Linked DNA regions of Homo sapiens. The protein of the gene in region 2 purifies or fractionates together with the protein of the main gene of each other region. This does not show direct contact. Each region holds a gene or a part of one and is shown on either strand. Other genes may lie near its edges.

The links.
Region 1: the proteins of TMED5 (region 2) and GOLGB1 purify together in Homo sapiens (co-immunoprecipitation; 2 studies listed by BioGRID and IntAct, with this or other methods). This does not show direct contact.
Region 3: the proteins of TMED5 (region 2) and KIF14 purify together in Homo sapiens (co-immunoprecipitation; 2 studies listed by BioGRID and IntAct, with this or other methods). This does not show direct contact.

Annotation. Positions count from the first base shown.
Region 1 is NC_000003.12:121,662,658-121,669,780, forward strand, and holds the end of GOLGB1 (golgin subfamily B member 1), read right to left. Parts: intron 6,699-7,123; coding exon 6,555-6,698; coding exon of another isoform or gene 6,540-6,554; intron 5,502-6,539; coding exon 5,404-5,501; intron 4,954-5,403; coding exon 4,819-4,953; intron 2,375-4,818; coding exon 2,269-2,374; intron 1,958-2,268; coding exon 1,823-1,957; 3' UTR 544-1,822; downstream 1-543. UniProt on the Homo sapiens protein: May participate in forming intercisternal cross-bridges of the Golgi complex.
Region 2 is NC_000001.11:93,177,346-93,184,787, forward strand, and holds the start of TMED5 (transmembrane emp24 domain-containing protein 5 isoform 1 precursor), read right to left. Parts: upstream 3,069-7,442; 5' UTR 2,898-3,068; coding exon 2,709-2,897; intron 2,644-2,708; exon of another isoform or gene 2,568-2,643; intron 1-2,567. Other genes in the region: CCDC18 (coiled-coil domain-containing protein 18), read left to right, coding at 6,017-6,150, 6,633-6,801. UniProt on the Homo sapiens protein: Potential role in vesicular protein trafficking, mainly in the early secretory pathway. Required for the maintenance of the Golgi apparatus; involved in protein exchange between Golgi stacks during assembly.
Region 3 is NC_000001.11:200,550,902-200,554,776, forward strand, and holds the end of KIF14 (kinesin-like protein KIF14), read right to left. Parts: intron 3,706-3,875; coding exon 3,567-3,705; intron 2,867-3,566; coding exon 2,487-2,866; 3' UTR 599-2,486; downstream 1-598. UniProt on the Homo sapiens protein: Microtubule motor protein that binds to microtubules with high affinity through each tubulin heterodimer and has an ATPase activity. Plays a role in many processes like cell division, cytokinesis and also in cell proliferation and apoptosis.

The DNA.
Region 1 (7,123 bases), on a different chromosome or scaffold from region 2:
CTGGAAGGCGGAAGGTGCAGTGAGTTGAGATTGTGCCACTGCACTCCAGCCTGAGCGAAAGAGTGAAACTCGGTCTCAAAAAAAACCCAACAAAACAAAACAAAACATAATAATGCCTATCTAACCTGCTACATGCTATTAAGCTTCTCTTCTCCCATTCCCACCCAGAGGGATCCCTAGGGGCCTAATGTTTTCACTATGTGCCAGACAAGAGTTCTCCCAGGACCATGCATGGACCTGCATCAATTTCATGCCCTAAGGCCCAGCTTATTTGGTTCAGTATTAGGATAGAATTTCCTCACTGCATTCATCACCTGGGGTCTAGCAGCTAAGGCTGGAAAAATGCATGCAGCTGTCACTGATATTGGCCAGTGAGAAGAAAGCCTGAATATGTAGAGCTTTCTACCCCTATAACCATTCCTGGCTACCTCCTTTCCCTACTTCCCTTACCCACCTTCCACCCCCCAGCATGCAAACACAGGTACCGAAACACCTGTGCACATATCCATTCACTCACACGTACACACACATACACACAAACTCTTCATTCTGAAAATAATTTTATTATTTTACAGTTGTTCAGGAAACTTCCCAGGATGTTGTAACCAAGATTTAATCACCACAGTAGATTTAGAGCAGATCAGTCAGCCCACTTGTCTTCTCTCTTCTTTAGGGAGAGGCTAGGCAGTGAACACATCACGTATGCAATGAGAAAATAACCAACTGGTAGGATGGGGGAGGGGAGGGGAGGCAGGGAATAGGCACAAATGGAATTCTATCCTGGCTGTCCTTCTCAGGTCTATCTATATTTAATTTTGTCTTCTCTATATTCTCCTTCCATTGCCACAGAGGGCAGAGACAATGGGGCTGAGAAACTGTAATAACTGTCACTAACAGCAAAGTAGCTTAGTACTTCAAGAGGTCAGGAGTTGCAGTGTGGTGTTAGACCAGTCAGACTCCTGGCTGAGAGTCAATGCCTAATATTGGCTCCCAGTGGCCCCTGAGCACTGTCTCAGGGTCCACATTCCAGGAATATTCAGATATTCCTGGAATGACAAGAATTGGAACCCTGCTGTCCATAGACACTTCTCCCTGCCCTTTGGTGAAAGGAAAGACTTGGGCCACTTAATACCTTAGTATACATGTGATCAAGGGCAAAAGCAAAGGGATTCTATCCTTATAGTCTAAGACCTGAAATTCTCCCTCCAATTATATCTGAAATTGGCAGGGAAGAAGATGCTGTCCTCCCATGTGATCTAACAGCTAAAACCCCTAGGGAGTTCCTTCAGCTTTCACCACCCTATTCTGCAAGAGACCTAAATCAGATGTCCTATGAGGTGACATGTTCATTTCCCTGAACTCTGTTTATGGCAGAGCCACCTTCCCCCTGAAACAGGAGAAAATACAGGCAAACAAGGCAAAGAAAGTTATCAATCAAAATGATACTGAACTTCAGATTATTAGGTTTATTGAAACCATCCTCTTGGCTTGGCTGAAAGACATTCCTCAGTATCTTTTACAGGACCACAAAAGATCAGGGTCCTGCAAAATCTCAACAAATATTAGGCTCAACAAACCAAATGTGATTCTCAGATTAAGCAGAAGCGTTCAGGCTCAGGGCAGTAGAAGAAAGCAGACTCGCCAGTCCCTGCAGCTCCAACCTGTCCTCGTATCCACCTCTGTTTTTGCAGGCACTTTCCGTGAAGAGTTGGAGAGAAGACCTGTAAATGGGAAGACTGTTCCACTGGAATTGATGTTCTGATGTTAGAGGTGAGAGAATTCCAAGTTTTGAGGGGAGTGGTCCAAAGAGTAACAACTAAGTCTATAGATGGCCCGTAAAACACAGAATGAGCAGGACATGAATCATTAGAAAGTAGATGGCTGCTAGAAGTGGCACTCGGGTCCGTGAATGACAGAGTGAACGCAGGACTCGCTTCCATCCAACGCCACTCCGGGTCTGAAAGAAAAATGTGAAAGTCAGAGAGTTTTCACCCTATAGGGCTATGTTGCTTTCCCTCCTACTAGTCTTGCACTTAAGCAAAGCTGACCCAACCACTGTAGAAAGGGGTATTCTGAGAGGAAAGTTGCCTCAGAGTCAACAACTTGGCAAATTCCACCAGGTTCTAATCTTCCACGCCCTTCCAGCCTTAGACTCATTCGCTGCTCAGTGGCTGGACTTCCACATTCCTTCTCCTCAGCTCCTTGCCCCCAGTATAGCCAGCCCTGTCAGATAATAAAACACCCTCTCTTTATCCTTCTTCCTCTTACCCTTCGACAACTGTTGCTTGTAAGATCTATTAACAGTGCCTGCTCCTGAGTGCCACAGGAGCCAATGATAGGAGTCCGGGAAGAGTCCCATTCACTGTGCTCTAACCTGAGTTGAGAAAAAAAAGAGGCATAGCATTGGTTCATAGCATGAGAGGCTGATCAGGCCCAGTCTTCCCAGTCATCCTGCCACACAATGCAGCACAGGAGGAGACTTGCAGCAAAAGCTGCTCCCATAAACCCAAACCCATGCAAGGGGGGTACCAGCAGATACGTTTCCTTCAGCAGCAGCAAAATGTGACAATAACTATCAGGAATTGACTGCCTACTCACTATGTATCAGGCTCTAGGCTGGGTGCTTTACATACATTTAATCCTCAGGTTCTGAGGTTGGTCTTATTATCTTCAAAGTGCTAAGGCTTACAGAGGTTAAATTACTTGCCCATGGCGGCACAGCCAGTAAGCGGCAGAGCCAGAATTCAATACCCAACTTTGTCTTTCAAGCCTCACGTTCTTTTTTCCACCACACCACACCTGACTTGGAGAAACTCATTACATTTTTTTCTTTTATTAAAGGCTAATAGGCAAAAGCATCCAAAGAAGATTTCTGTGGGGTTTTAAAAATTAAATTGAACTAAAAAAAATTAAATTGAATTGGCAGTCTCCACTGCCTTCTGGCTCAGTTTTTGCTGATTTGCTTATTTAATACTGGAACTTCTCCATTTAATGAAGAAGCTGCCATTACTCACTCAATGGTTATGTCAAACAAACAAAGGAGCTGCATGTAACACAGCACGTTTGATCAAGCATTTGCCTATAGGGATGAACTTTTTCAATAGGGAAGAGAGGATGAAACTCTTGCCTCTACTCTTTGTGTTTTCTCCTTCTGAAAGGATATCTATTAGTTTAATATTCTTGGGCTCTCTGCAGGACACATTCTTTTCCCCGGGAGAGAAGAAACACCTTAATCCAATTTGTGAGTCTAGAAAGAGAACTGAGCATGCACAGCCTAGCTCCTTCTTTCCTGCTTCCCTCCTGAGAGCCAGGCTGACTAAAAAATACACCTTCTGTGTCTATTCCTCCATGTGATAAGCTTTTCAGAAGCAGCTTTGATCTGGAACAGCATGGTCTGTTACTATGGAGGTCAGTCTGTCAATGTAGGCTATGCTGAGGAAGGATGAGAAGTCTGTAGGTATTGATGAGGAAGATGGTACTGGCTGCCTTTAAACTGGAGGGCCACTGAGTTCCACCTGCTCTTTAGAGTACATGTGAGATTCTAACATTACAATGGCAGTACCTGGACTAGGCAGGCAGCCCTTAATTAGCTACCCCAACTTCCATTCTGCATCAGAGCTAAAGAGGGAATTGTGGCTTGAATTAATACGGCTTGCCCACAGGCTCAAGAGTCATCATCCCACACATGCAGTCTCAGTTGGTTTGGGACAGGTTAGTTACACAAGAGGGAGATCAACCTCCCCATTGGCCAGGTTTCACCGGTCTAAACAATTCAATAGCAAGTAGAAGAGAAACAGTCATGAGGGCACAGGCCTGAAAATGCTCGGCAGAGATGGCAAGACACCACACAAGGCATTAAGCAAAGCTGGCCCACCCTCAAAGCTGCATATCAAGGCCTGAATAGGTGATGAAAATTAAGAAGTTGTGAATATGTTGGATTGGAAAGAAAGGTATCTCAAGTAAGACCTGCTCAATGGGGCTGTCACCTCTGCCACATAAACTTTACAAGAAAGCATTAATATCAGAAATGTCATTCTCTGAGGAAAGTGATCATATACATAGGTGGCTTTCTCCCAAAATATAATAAAAGTGCCTGCTTTTAACGATATTTTCCGTGGAAAGGGACTTCCAGCAGCAAAATACTTGTAGCAACTCTCTATCCTCTCATGCATAGTGATTCTTTTGATGAGAATAAGGAACTAGGGATGTGTAGCTCTGCCCTTCCAAATTACACTTGGAGCAAACTGCTCATAGGAAGCACAGTTCACTCTGTTATTCCAATACTCTTGTTTGGCAAGAGCAGGATTTTCTGTGAAGGAGGTCTACCTTGGCCCAACATTGTCTGTGACTGGGAGGGGAAGTTCAGGGTTAGGAAGTGCATTTGCCAACAAATAAAAAGCTACATTCTTTTAACATCATTTATAAAGCAGTCTTTTAATCTCTCAATCTTTTAATCTTTTAAAAAAGATTTCCATGGATTCAGATCTCAGGTAGAAAATGAGGTTGTCACTTATTTGGTCCTCTAGAGAACCCAACACCTACCTCATATAGTTATGGTTAGGGTGAAATAAAATATCTTTCAGTAATGGTAGATATCATTATTATTCTCTAAGAACAACTGTTTTAGAAAACACTGACTCTCTTATACTCCAAAAGTACAGTGTTCTCTTGGGTGACCACAATGTTGGTAAACTCATTGCAGCAACTACCTCAAGATGAGAAAAAGATCTTAAGAAATCCTAAGTCTGGCAGGAAATGTACATGAGTTTGATCAGAAAGGATCGGAAGGGAACAGAGGCTATCTCCTTCAGCCTTTACCGTCTGATCTGCTCCTCGGCCACAGAGAGAGCATTCTCAGCAGCCACTCTTTGGTCTCGTTCTTCTTCCAGCAGCTTCCTTAATTCATTCACTTCCTGTCTGGTGTTGCATAGCTGCTGCTGAGCTTCAGAAAAGCTTTAGGATGAGAGGAAAACAAAAAGCATCATCAGATGCAGAAAACAGTTGCTAATACAAGGGATTCAAAGTCTTCATAAGGTTGTAAAGCAAGAAAATCCATAGAAGCTTGTCTAAACACAATATTTTAAAAGCAAAGCTGTAGAGGGATTAAATGAAGCTGCAGAAAATACCTAAAGAAATTTCAGGAACTGATTATCTTTCATTTTACTATCATAGAGTAGTTGTTAGTGGTGTGTGTGTGTTGGTGTTGCTCTTTTTGTTTTACAAACTTTTCACACACAAATGTTAGTTATTATTGTTACTATTTGATCCTCACATCACTTCTGTGAGGCTAATAAGATAACAAGACATATTAAATCCATATAAAGGACTCCAGTTAAATCTAGATTACTGCCCAATTTCTGGACTCTGGTGTATGCTCCAGGGTTTAGAGAGCCACTCCCCTACCTTTGCTGCGGTTCCCTTAGTTCCTCAGGGTCACTCTTTCTGTGAACTCCATTCTTTTCCTGGGGAGCTCCTGGAGCAACATCTATATTTAGTGGCCCCTGGAAGAAGAATAAGCTTAGTAATTCAGTGATGAAAGCTCTTAAGAAAGTGTATTTGAGCAAAATGAGAGCTCGTTTACAGAGGACTATCCCCGCTTATAATTCTCAAGTCCAAATTTAGAAGTGAGAAGCTTCTGCTCTAGCAGATTACTCACCTACATAAAACTCTTGTCTTGATTAGATTTTTCTCCCAGATTCTCATTCTTGAATTTCTCCTCTTAAAAGTTAAGTCTGGGCCGGGCGCCGTGGCTCAAGCCTGTAATCCCAGCACTTTGGGAGGCCGAGGTGGGTGGATCACAAGATCAGGAGTTCAAGACCAGCCTGGCCAAGATGGTGAAACCCTGTCTCCACTAAAAATACAAAAAATTAGCCGGGTGTGGTGGCAGGCGCCTGTAATCCCAGCAACTCGGGAGGCTGAGGCAGAGAATTGCTTGAACCCAGGAGGTGGAGGTTGCAGTGAGCCGAGATCGTGCTACTGCATTCCAGCCTGGGCGACAGAGCGAGACTCCGTCTCAAAAAAAAAAAAAAAAAAAAAAAAGTTAAGTCTGCTGTGGATGCTTATGGCTTTTCCAGAAGCCACTTTGATCCTTCCCTTGCTTGTCCAGCCCCTCCCAACCCCCTTTTCCTCCTCCGTATCCTATACGTCTCCATACTAATTCTCAGTCTCCTCCAACTTCAATGCTGTACTCCTCTCCCTGGCTGTCAACAGTGCTGCCTGTTTTGTTCTCAGATCCAAAGTTTCCTACAATTTTCTTATAACTTAAAGCAAAATCAACACTTTCTCTGTTTCAGAGTACCAAATGTCTCAGTCATCACTGTTTCCTACTCATGTTTTGATTTCTCTCCCACCATCTCACTGATCTTTTTTCTTCTAATTGCTTCACTGTAATTTTTCTCAGACCTTATTCCCATCTCAATTAACTCTTTCTTCTCTCCCACTTTCTTCCCTGACCCCTAATTACATTAACTTCTTCCATACTGCTCTGTAGTGCTTCACCACTTGCACTAAATTTCATCACACTTCTCCCAGTCTCTCACCTTCTCTTTACTCACCGCCTGCAGCTCTTGAACCTGCTTCTCCAAGACTGCACAGTGATTTAAAAGGTCACCATAGTGCTGCTGGTTCTCACGAAGACTCTGACTGGTATCGCAGAGCTGAATGGAAAGGGTGTTTTTCTCTTCCAGTAGCTGAGAGAACTGAAACAGAGGCGAGGATAAGCATCATCCTGCAGTACTGTAAGCAGTGCTGAGGTGAAATGTTCTGAGTTTTCAGGATCTAATTTTCCTATGGAAGACCTTTGTTTCAGCAACAGCAACAATAGCACTTTGTGTGCCTTCAAAGTTGGAAAAAGCATAATTTTTTTTTGACCAAGACAGAAAACAATTCTGGAGGAGTAGCAGAAAGGTTTTTTTGTTTTGTTCTGTTTTGTTTTTTTAAATGGTGCCCAGTACATTAACTGAAAAACCATGAAGCAGAAGTCCATAAGCAATCTAATTACATAGGCTATTCTGGGTACATAAGAGGGAGAAGGCAGTACCTCAGGGTCAAAGTTCATGGTACTAACAAATGACTATAATCTCCAGAACTCAATATGGCTGGAGAGAGCTGTCACCCCAAAATC
Region 2 (7,442 bases):
GGCTGGCAGATCACTTGAGATCAGGAGTTTGGGACCAGTCTGGCCAACATAGTGAAACCCCGTCTCTACTAAAAATACAAAAATTAGCTGGGTGTGGTGGCACATGCCTGTAATCCAGCTACTCGGGAAGCTGAGGCGGGAGAATCACTTGAACTCGGGAGATGAAGGTTGCTGTGGGCCAAGGTCGCGCCACTGCACTCCAGCCTGGGTAACAGAGTGACAGAGGGAGACTCTGTCTCAAAAAAAAAAAAAAAAAAAAAAAAAAAGGAACAGTCCCTTTAAGAGTGACTAAAGATGTAAAGAATAAAGCTAAACCAAGCCAGCTACATAACTATAGAGGTATAAATGTAAAATTAACATTCATTGATTATTTACTATGTGTCAGGGATGATCTATGAGCATTTTTTAATAGACTACTTTACACTGAATATGAGCATTTATTAACTCATGCTTTTTCAAATCAACTCTATGATGTAGTTACAATTATTATCTCTATTTTACAAGTGAGAAGATCACATAAGTTTTAAGTAGGCAGAGTCAAGATTTGAACCCAGGCTAAGGTTAAGAGCTGGTGCTCTTAACTATAAGAGGACAGTAGTTAAAATAGATATCTTCCCTAATATGTGTGTAAATACTGAAGATTTTTTTATTAATACAAATTGTTTTCTTATCTAGACTATTTCACTAGCCCTCTAGTTAGTTTCCTTGACTCTAATTTTGCTCTCCTTAAATCCATTTTCCACACTGCATCCAGTGATCTGCTTAAATCTTAAATGGACTTGTACAAAATTAAGGAAAACCTACTCAGCACGGCAAACAAGGCTATGATTCATGCTTAATGACCCCAGCCTTCTGGCCTCTCCGATGTCCTTTTCTGCTACTCCCACCCTAGACTTTATATGTCTTAAAGTCTAATACAAACTCAGTACTTGTAGTGTCCACTACACACTAACCATCCCCACTTACACTATGTATTTTAAGAACTATGGATCTTTTTGTTCGCTTTTCTGAAATGCCCCTTGTTCCTGGCATTTTCGTCTCAATTAAGCATCTTTCTGGATTAAATTTTATTTTCTCCAGGAATCCTCTTCTGAAACCCTTAGAAGTGACCCTCCTCTACTGGTACTTAGCCATCCTTTATTGAAATTACCTGTTTATGAGCCAGTAACCTTTATTAAGCTCTTTGAGAAGAGGGATTCTTTCTTTCTCTTTTACCTACATCCCGCACAACCCAGCTCCCCCTCCGTCTCCCCCACCTCCATGCACAATTCCTGGCACGTGTTAACTGTTCAGTAAATGTTGAACTTTTGAACTTTACTGGAAATCAAGAAACACTGAGTTTTAGCCTCAGTTTTGCTCACTATGTGATTTTAGATATTTTATTCTCTGTGCTTATCGTGTGTATCTATATACAACTTAATCCTAAAGTTCCATCGTATAAAAAATTCTACAACTTTTTATTTTGCTCTGTATGTGACAGTACCTGGTATTTAAAAACAATTCTCTACATCAACTTAAAAAATTAACATTTGATGATTATAATTAACTTCTAAAAAACTGAAAGATGAAACACATCAATGCCTTTTCTTTCCCCCCTGTACTGCTACCTGAAAACATCGGAATTTGCTGTGGAACGAACAAGATTTCTTCTAAGAAATTACCCCCTACCACCATGACTACATAAAATAAGGTAATTCCCAGCAAGAATATTATGCAGATACTAAAAAGAAAACATGCTAGGCATGGTGGCTCACGCCTGTAATCCCAGCACTTTGGGAGGCCGAGGCGGGTGGATCGCCTGAGGTCGGGAGTTCGAGACCAGCCTGGCCAACATGGTGAAACCCCGTCTCTACTAAAAATACAAAAATTAGCTGGGCATGGTGGCGCACGTCTGTAATCTCAGCTACTCGGAAGGCTGAGGCAGGAGAATCGCTTGAACCCGGGAGGCGGAGGTTGCAATGAGCCGAGATAGCGCCACTGCACTCCAACTCTAGCTTGAGCAACAAAGCGAGACTCCGTCTCAAAAAAAAAAAAAAAAAACAATGACACGAGGGAAATGCTTACAATGCTCAATGAAAAAATGAAAAGAAAGGTTATAAAGTTTTAATATACGATTTGATCTTTTGAAAATAATGGATATATAACTTAAACGGAAATGTATCATTAAATATAGCAACAGCGTCTTCCAAAAAATTTCAAAATCGGGCTTAATGCCAATTACACGATCATAATCCAAAAACCCTTAACTGAAGCAAAGACAGTGATTTGTAACATCTGAACTGTGTGAAAGGGGTGGGGGTGATTCAAACAAGTGTCATCACCTTGTCCAATGATGAAGGAGAACGTGTATCAGTTCTGCATTGTGAAATTCTCAGTATGAGAGCGTGTAGTGGCTAAGAAAAGCAGTGGGCGAATTAGGAAACAAAGAGAAAAGCCAGCGACATCACCAGTTCTGGCCTCCTTCCCACCGGAGGAAAGGGGAGAAGGCGGGTAGTCATCAATTCCAGGTCCAGCCTAAGTTCTGGGTCCCCGGCCCCAGCGAGAGCCTCGCCTCGCCTCGCGCGCCTGCGCGGAGCGGGCTGGCTTCCTGAACGGCCCTCGCCTCTTCACCACCAGGGCCGTCCACCAGAAGTTTCTAAACGGGTGAGAGGCGACAACGCAGTGCAGCTGGGTTAAAGGAAGGAGGCTGGTTTATCCTCCGCACTTACTTGGTACTCGATCTCCAGCGAGGCCTTCAGGGGCATGGGCTGGTAGAAGCACTCCTTCTGGCCGGCGGGAAGGGTAAAGGTGAAGTCGCTATCGAGGGAAGGTGTGAAGCCGGCCGCCCCAGGCAGCAGCACCGGAGGCAGAGCGGCCAGAAGGAGCACGGGGAAGGGCAGCCAGATCTTGTCGCCCATCCCTGCTGGGGCGATCCCGGGCTGAAAGAGGCGTCAGGTACTGTTGTCTCCGCTCCGCGTTTCCTCTCTGGACTCCTCGTGGTTGACAGGGAAATCTGGAGTCTGAAGAAACTCCAGGTGGCGGCCGCGGCGGCGGCGAACACTCCCTCCGAAAGAGAAGCGCAGTTCTCCAAAGGGTAGGGACTCTGGGCGGGGCTAGCAGTCCTATTCCGCAACCGCCTCAGTCTCGGCCCCCTCAGGCCAGGCGTGAGCGCCGCCCGCCTCTCCCCCTGACGGCCTCCGGTTCCCATGGCTTCCCCCACCAATGGGCATCATGGCGGTAATTGTGGGAAATGTAGTCCCGGGCGGGCTCCGCTAGTGGGCTCGGGCGCGCTCGCCGACCACGATCCCCGGCAAGCCCCGCGCCTTCGGCGGCGCCTCACGCAGTCTGCGCCGGGGCGGGGCAGTGACCGGGTAGGCGCGTCCCAACGGCTCCCGCGGCGGTTCGAATTCTGTGCTGCCGGGGTTCGCTGGTTCTCCGAGTTGTGTCCGAGGCTTCCACGCGCAGGGGCCCGGGAAAGGGTCAGAGGCTTCCTAACGCAGACTCGAGTGCGAAGCGCGCAGTCGCCGGGTGGGTCTCTCCCCAGCGACGATTTGGGTGGTGAGCGACTGCGCCTTGGCGTGGGGAAACCGGCTTACCTGGGGGAGTTCTGTTCCTTTCCCTCCCGGCACCTTGGATGCGCTGGGACTGGTCCTCGTGGTTGCTGAGCATGCTGCTCTGAACGGTTGTATTTTATTTGATGAAAAATAGGAGGCCGGGCGCAGTGGCTTACGCCTGTTACCTCAGCACTTTGGGATGTCGAGGCGGAAGGATTGCTTGAGCCCAGGAGTTCGAGGCCAGCCTTGGCAATATGGCGAGCCACTGTCTCTATAAAATTAAAAAAAAAAAAAAAAAGAGGAAACTGTCACTTCCGTCCCCCACCCCCGCCCCCGCTTCTTTCAGACGGATGTAAGATTAGCTGTGTCAAGCGATCTTGAGACAGGAGACTACTACATAAAGTTATGACTTCTTTCCAAAATGAGGAATCTTTTTCGACTACAGCCCATTGTATCACATACATAGGGTATAAAAGAACACTTGTCCTTCGTTTGATGGGTGTGCGTGTGCAAACCTACAAACACATTGTTAATTAGGGCCGAAAGATGATGTTGTTAAGGTCGGTGAGTAGGATGATGTGCTTTTCTAGGTATGCATAGTCAGTGAAGATAGCCTTTTTTGGGTAACTACTGTAAATTGAAGTTAAGGACATTCATTTGACAGTAAATGTCCCACTAGGAAAATGAAAACATTTTAGTATCAAATATATTCATTGCTACTGCAGAAGAGTTAGGGAGTTCTTTCTTTTTTTTTTGAGACCGAGTCTCACTCTGTCGCCCAGGCTGGAGTGCAGTGGCGCGATCTCGGCTCACTGCAACCTCCGCCTCCCAGGTTCAAGCAATTCTCTGCCTCAGCCTCCCGAGTAGCTGAGATTACAGGCGCTCGCCACCACCCCCGGCTAATTTTTTTGTATTTTTAGTAGATACGGGGTTTCACCATCTTGGCCAGGTTGGTCTTTAACTTTTGACCTCGTGATCCACCCGCCTTGACCTCCCAAAGTGCTGGGATTACCGGCGTGAGCCACCGCGCCCGGACTGGGAGTTATTTCTTGCATGGCAATACACAGATGTTGAACTAAAACCTGATTTAAGATGAAATATATAGTACCAAATGGTATTATAGAATTTGCCCAATTTTCTCTACCCTTTTCTCCTTCACCATCCTACAGAGAGCTAGAGATGTTGAATAGGTAAAGCAGGATGGGGACCTGATTTATTGACTTGTCTGCGAGAGTCTTGTCACTTAAGCAGAAGCAAATTTGTGGAAACAAAAAAGGGAAAGAGGATAGAACCAGTTTGTCTATTAAGATTACATAGTATCTCATTTAATTTCCTGCCACTTTCTTTCCATAAGGTGGGAGTTTTCTTTTTAATCTTCCTCCCTACATCTGAGAATTTTTGAGTGGGGAATAAATGTAACATACCATTCTAACTGGATGAGGGAAGGAAGGACAGTTTAGTATTCGTTAATTCATTCAAAATATTGAGCTTCTCTAAGTACATTGCGGTCCTGAACGTAATGCACAGGACTTTTAACCTTTTGGAACTTGGGATGGGATCAGAATGCTAAGAAGGGCGTTGAAGGAGATGCTACAGTGAAAAAGGTAAATGGGATCTGAAAGAGGAATGTAATTTTAAGATTGCGCAGAAAGCTCTGTAGTAGTGGAGATTATAAAGCTTTAGTTTTTTATTGTATTAATTACAATAATAAAATGTGATGCTTTATTGTGATTTTTATATGCAAAGAAATTTAGTAGTTTCACAACCCTAGAGATACTCATCCACTGAAGAAACAAAAGCTTTTCTTCATTTCTATGAGTTGACCTGCCAAATGTTATTTTGATCCCTGTGGTTGTGACTTGTAAATGTGTCTTTTTAAAATTTTATAACTATTGGGCGTAGGAGGAGGAGACAGCTTTTATCTGGTAATAAATTCCCTTCTAACAAAATATGAATGTAATGATACCATTTAATCAGATGTCCAGTACTTGTAATGTAATTATGAAAGTTCAAACACCTCATATTGAAATTGATATGTAATATGTAATAAAGCTACAATGCGACATAATTTAATGGTCTTTGCATCCTAATGACTTGGATTCAAATCTTGATTTCACCATTTACAGTTTGTGTGACTTTGAGCAAGTTATTTAATGTCTGATTCTTAGTTTCCTTAACATGTAATGAAAATAATTAACAATTGTTAGGAAGATCAGGTATGCTTACAAAAGAGAACTATAATAACTAGACCCTGGCTAAAATGAAAAATTCATTCATTGAAATTGTATTGAATTCCTTTATGGCTTTACACTACAGATAAATTCATTATTATTGATTTTTTGTTTTGTTTTAAACCACCATGAAAGATTTCACAACATTTAAAATAGAAAACTAATGAGTTAAATTCTATTCATGTGAGTATTTTGACTGAAACTACAGAATCTTTCAGACAAGGTACAAGAAATTCATTTTTTTTTTAAGAAATGGAATCTAGTTCATCAGACTACTATAATAAAGACAATGAAGAGGAAAGTTTGCTTGCAAATGTTGCTTCCTTAAGACATGAACTGAAGATAACAGAATGGAGTTTGCAGAGTTTAGGGGAAGAGTTATCCAGGTAAGTAAGTAAAATCACATATAGAATTCACTGTGCCTTAAATACATCAATGTAAAATGTGTGGATTTCATTATGATGTATTGTTTCTAACCTGCCTCTGGAATAAGAAATAATTTTCTTATACTTTTTAATGTAACTTTCAGTTTAGGGAAAAATAAGGAATATTAGAGAAGCCTCTTTGCATATTAAAAACACTTTCAGTGTATTAGAACTCAGTATAAAATATATATTTTGGGCTTTACTAATTTTTTATGATTTTTTTGAATCTTAAGTAATCTTAGCGTAGAGGCTTTAGAAATACAGTTTGCTAGTTTAAAAGTAATTATGATTTATTTAAAATTTAGTGGAAACATTGCCTTATGTTCATAACTGTGAATCTGCTTAGCAGCATTTCAGGTTTTCTATTTTCTTATTTAATGTATAGCAATTTGTAGTGAATAAACTATCCAAGAACTGAAATATGTTTTTTCTTTTTTCTCTAGTGTTAGTCCAAGTGAAAATTCTGATTATGCCCCTAATCCTTCAAGGTCTGAAAAGCTAATTTTGGATGTTCAGCCTAGCCACCCTGGACTTTTGAATTATTCACCTTATGAAAACGTCTGTAAAATATCTGGTAGCAGCACTGATTTTCAAAAAAAGCCAAGAGATAAGGTTATTGTTTTTAGACCTATCTAGTTAAAAGAAGTTTTGGTTTTAGGCCTGTCTACTTAAAAAAAATTTTTTTTAATTTTAAAATTAAATTAAAGAAAAAAATTTTTTCTTTAAATACCTTATTCATGGTTTCCATAATCTTTTACTATGGTACTCAAGAATTTAAATATAATTGTTCTTTTTATGTTCTAACAAGAAAGTAGTTATCTTGGTGTATTACTCTACTTTTAAACTTACATATTTATTACCTTTTTGCAGTTAAATGTCTTCTTAAGTAAATTATAATCCCCTTGATTTTAACACTACATCTTATACATAATAGGTAATCAATTGTTTATTAAGTAGTTAAGGTATACCCACCATTTAAAGCCTGGATCAAGTACTTTGGATAGTATGGCACTGTTCTCTTTTCATTATCTATTTTGTCAATGATGTTAGAGATCTTTGCTTGGTCTGAAACTCTCTTCCTTTTTCTTATTCTATCACATATTTATCTCCCTGCATTTATCCCTCTTCCTCACTCAACTCTTTTATCTCCTTTTACACTCTCTTCCTATTCTTTGTTCCCCCGACTCCCTACATGTATATACACAGATATGGTTGCACATAATCTTTTTGGATATGTATTTGCTCTTTCCACT
Region 3 (3,875 bases), about 110 Mb from region 2:
ATTTTCAGGTATGCCATAAAGGACTGCAATACAATTTGGCACATTGGCAGAATGTTATAAATGGCATATGCCTGCACCAAGTGTGATCTTATATACATAACAAGGGTTTTGTAGCTGGTAATGAAAAGGACAGAAAATAAATTCACTAACAGTCTACTACTTGCCAGCAGTTATTCCCACATTTTTCTCACTAAGTGCTCATAGATAGATAGTCCATGAGGTGGGTATTACTTTTCTTTCTGCAGATGAAGGAATGGGAGTGAAGACAGTAACATGTCTAAGGTCATGTAGTTACTAAGCAGTCCAGCTGGGATTCACACTCCAAACGTGTGAAAAATATGTCAAACTCCAAAGCTCATGCTCTTTACACATACCACATGGTGATAAATCTATTCCAGGCATAATCAACTAAAGAGAGGCAGAACAATGTTAAAAAAAAATAGTTGTTATGGCAATATTAATATTTGTTTAGTGTTTCCTAATTATTAACTTGATTTGCAACACTAGCCTAGCTATTATCAAGGCAGAGCTATTCTGAATGAAGAGTAAAATAAACAAAGAAAATCAGTAAAATAAAAAAGCATAGACCACGAAGCAATTCTAATGCTGAAAAGATTTATTAAAGGCATTCTCTTTATAACATTTCTTGTCAGTGCACATAATTCCAATAGCAAATATTTTTTCACCATTCATTCAAATACAGTATCACAATGTGTTTAGTATAAATATGTATACAAAATTTTATAAAGACACTAAAAAGTTTCTGACCAATTAAGTCATGAGTTTACAAAGCACAAACTGAAGATTAAATACTGAATATTAAGATGAAAACTACTATACAGGTACTTTAGGAAGTTCTTCAAAGAAGTGCACCTCCCGGGAAATCCTCATATGTACATCTACACTCCAGCAAACTGCACAGGCAAAGTGCTACTTGCCAGATTATTGACTAATAAAAACACATATAGAGCTTCAGAAAGAATACAAGGTCAAATGCCAAAAATAAAAAAAGAAATGAAAGCAAATGTGCTACATTGTACCATTTTAAAGAGCTTGAAAACACCACACAAGGTTCACTAATACTGTTCTGACTGCAATGACTGTATTTACTTACAATCTCTTCCTAACAAGGAAACTATCAGATTTATTCATGGTACGAATGGCCAATTTCAACTAGTTATGCCAAATGTACAAGTAGTATCTGTAAATTCGAAAAGGGCAAATGAAAGGATCAGGTTATTTAAATGAATTCTTCTTTTTTTTTCTTCTTTTTTTTTAAATGAATTATTCTTTAGGAACTGCTCAATATCACCCAAGCATAGTTACAAAGTATCTCTTCAAATTATACATACTCTTGAGGTCAAAAACGTCAAACTATTTCCGTAATGTAAGATCCCACAAGTAGAATATTATCTTTATTACTTGATCATAAATAAAGGTTTTTTTTTAAAGCTGTGGAAAATAAGGGTCTTTAATCTTCATCAAATCATATACAAATTATTTCATTATACCTTTAACAAAACAAGCATTATCAAGAGAAGGTCCAGCCTCTGATCTCCTAATCTCATCCAACAGTTTAGTATAATTCTGGCAACATTTTATTAGTTTTAAATAATATTCATACAGCCCCCATTATGAAACACAGATAACAGGGTAAACTACTGTGCCAGCAAGCCATATTATTAATATATAATTATACTATATTTAGGTAGCTACTTATAATTTGGAAAGAAACAGGAAGCTACACCCTTGAACATACTATTCAAAATGGCAACCAGTTAACCCTTTGAGAAAAGAATTTTTGATTAACAATGCAAGTTAAGTTGTCTTAGTTAAACTTGTACAGGCCATTTCACCATAAACATCCCAGCTGTCTGAGGAGAGAGAAGGCATAGGCACAAAGGTAACTGATTGTTCAGGTTTCCACTCATGAGAAAATAACCCTTTATAAACGACTAATGAACCAACTACAGACAGTATACCAATGTTAAACACTTTAAAGATAAAAATATATTTTATTTATTTATTTATTTATTTATTTATTTATTTATTTATTTATTTTGACTAAGTCTCGTTCTGTTGCTCAGACTGGAGTAAAGTGGCATGATCTTGGCTCACTGCAACCTCTGCCTCTCAGGTTCAAGCGATCCTCCTGCCTCAGCCCCCCTAGTAGCTGGGATTACAGGCACGCGCCACCATGCCCAGCAAATTTTTGTATTTTTAGTAGAGACGGGGTTTCGCCATGTTGGCCAGGCCGGTCTCAAACTCCTGACCTTGTGATCTGCCCGCCTCCCAAAGTGCTGGGATTACAGGCGTGAGCCACTGTGTCTGGCCTTTGATAAATAGATATTTTAAAGATAAAAAGACATGGACTTTTTTGAAATATCTGTGCTGATTTCTCTTAAACTCTCCTGCATAAAGAAAATTACCGAGCAAGTGTTCTTTTTCTTTCATGGGTGGTCATAAAAGTGCCTACACATCAGTATTCACACCCACTGAATCCTACTGGGTGTGCATTCCTCTGAGCTCACTGCTGGGGATGAGCCATGGAGCTCATAGACACGCTTTGGTACACCTTTATTCTTACTGCCGTCAATCCCGCTTGATTTAGATTGTTGGTGTTCTTCTTTGGTATTTTGATTATAAGTTTCCCAGGGTTTCAACAAATCAGGGCTTTCTTCAGATTCAAAACAAAAGAGGAGAGACTTAGCTAGAGATTCTAGTTCCTGGTGGACAATGTGAGTTACTCTACTCTCATAGCTGCCAACAGAAGTAGAAGGCACACTGAAGTCACTGTAAAAATCACTGGCCAAGTTGCGAATACTTTCAACACAAGTCTGGAGAAGATTTATATCACTATGGCATCCTATATGCAAGAGAGGAGGGAAAAGTTAATTAGCCTTTTCAGTTTTCATCAGGTATTTATGACTTTTATAGACTCTAGATATCTTTTAAGTCAAAGTGACCCTATCAAAACAATTCCAAACTACTTAAGATTAGTCAACTAAAGTGTTTATTTGCTAGATGAGCACTTGGTTTTTCAGGATCTAATTATTTAGGTAGAAGTACTGATACATACATTAAGTGGGAATTTAATTATAAATACAAGTTCCTATATGGGTAACTAATATCAGTGAAGTAGCATTGGGTAGGCTTCAGTTAATGACTAAAATAATGAAAAGGTTAGAAATAAAAAGGAAAGATGTCAGCCGGGGACTGTGGCTCATGCCTGTAATCCCAGCACTTTGGGAGGCCAAGGTGGGTGAATTGTTTGAGGTCAGGAGTTCGAGACCAGCCTGGCCAACATGGTGAAACCCCATCTCTACTAAAAATACAAAAATTATCCAGGCATGGTGGCATATGCCTGTAATCCCAGCTACTTGGGAGGCTGAGGCAGGAGAATCGCTTGAACCCAGGAGTCGGAGGTTGCAGTGAGCTGAAATCGAGCCACTGCACTCCAGCCTGAGTGACAGAGCGAGACTCCATCTCAAAAAAAAAAAGGAAAGATGTCTAAGGTTCCTTAAAATATAAAATTCTGATTATAAACTCCATTTGGAGAATCATACCTTTCAGTGCAGAAATAATAATTTCAATAGCTTTCTCTAAGCAATGTTTTAACTTTAAGAATTCTGGAGCACGATTAACCATCCTCTTGAAATCTTGGTATTCAAAGTTTTCTTCTTGTACTTGCCTTCTGAAACTTTTCTGTATAAATAAAGTTAATATTTAAAATAATACATTAACAGGCTCAATGGCAGTAAGGCTCAGTCAATATGATTTTAATTGCCAGAATCTTCTCTTTAAGAAAGAGAGTTTAATTTCCTCACCAGTGCTTAACTCTATTTCTATAAGCAAGACCAAAATACAATAGTAAT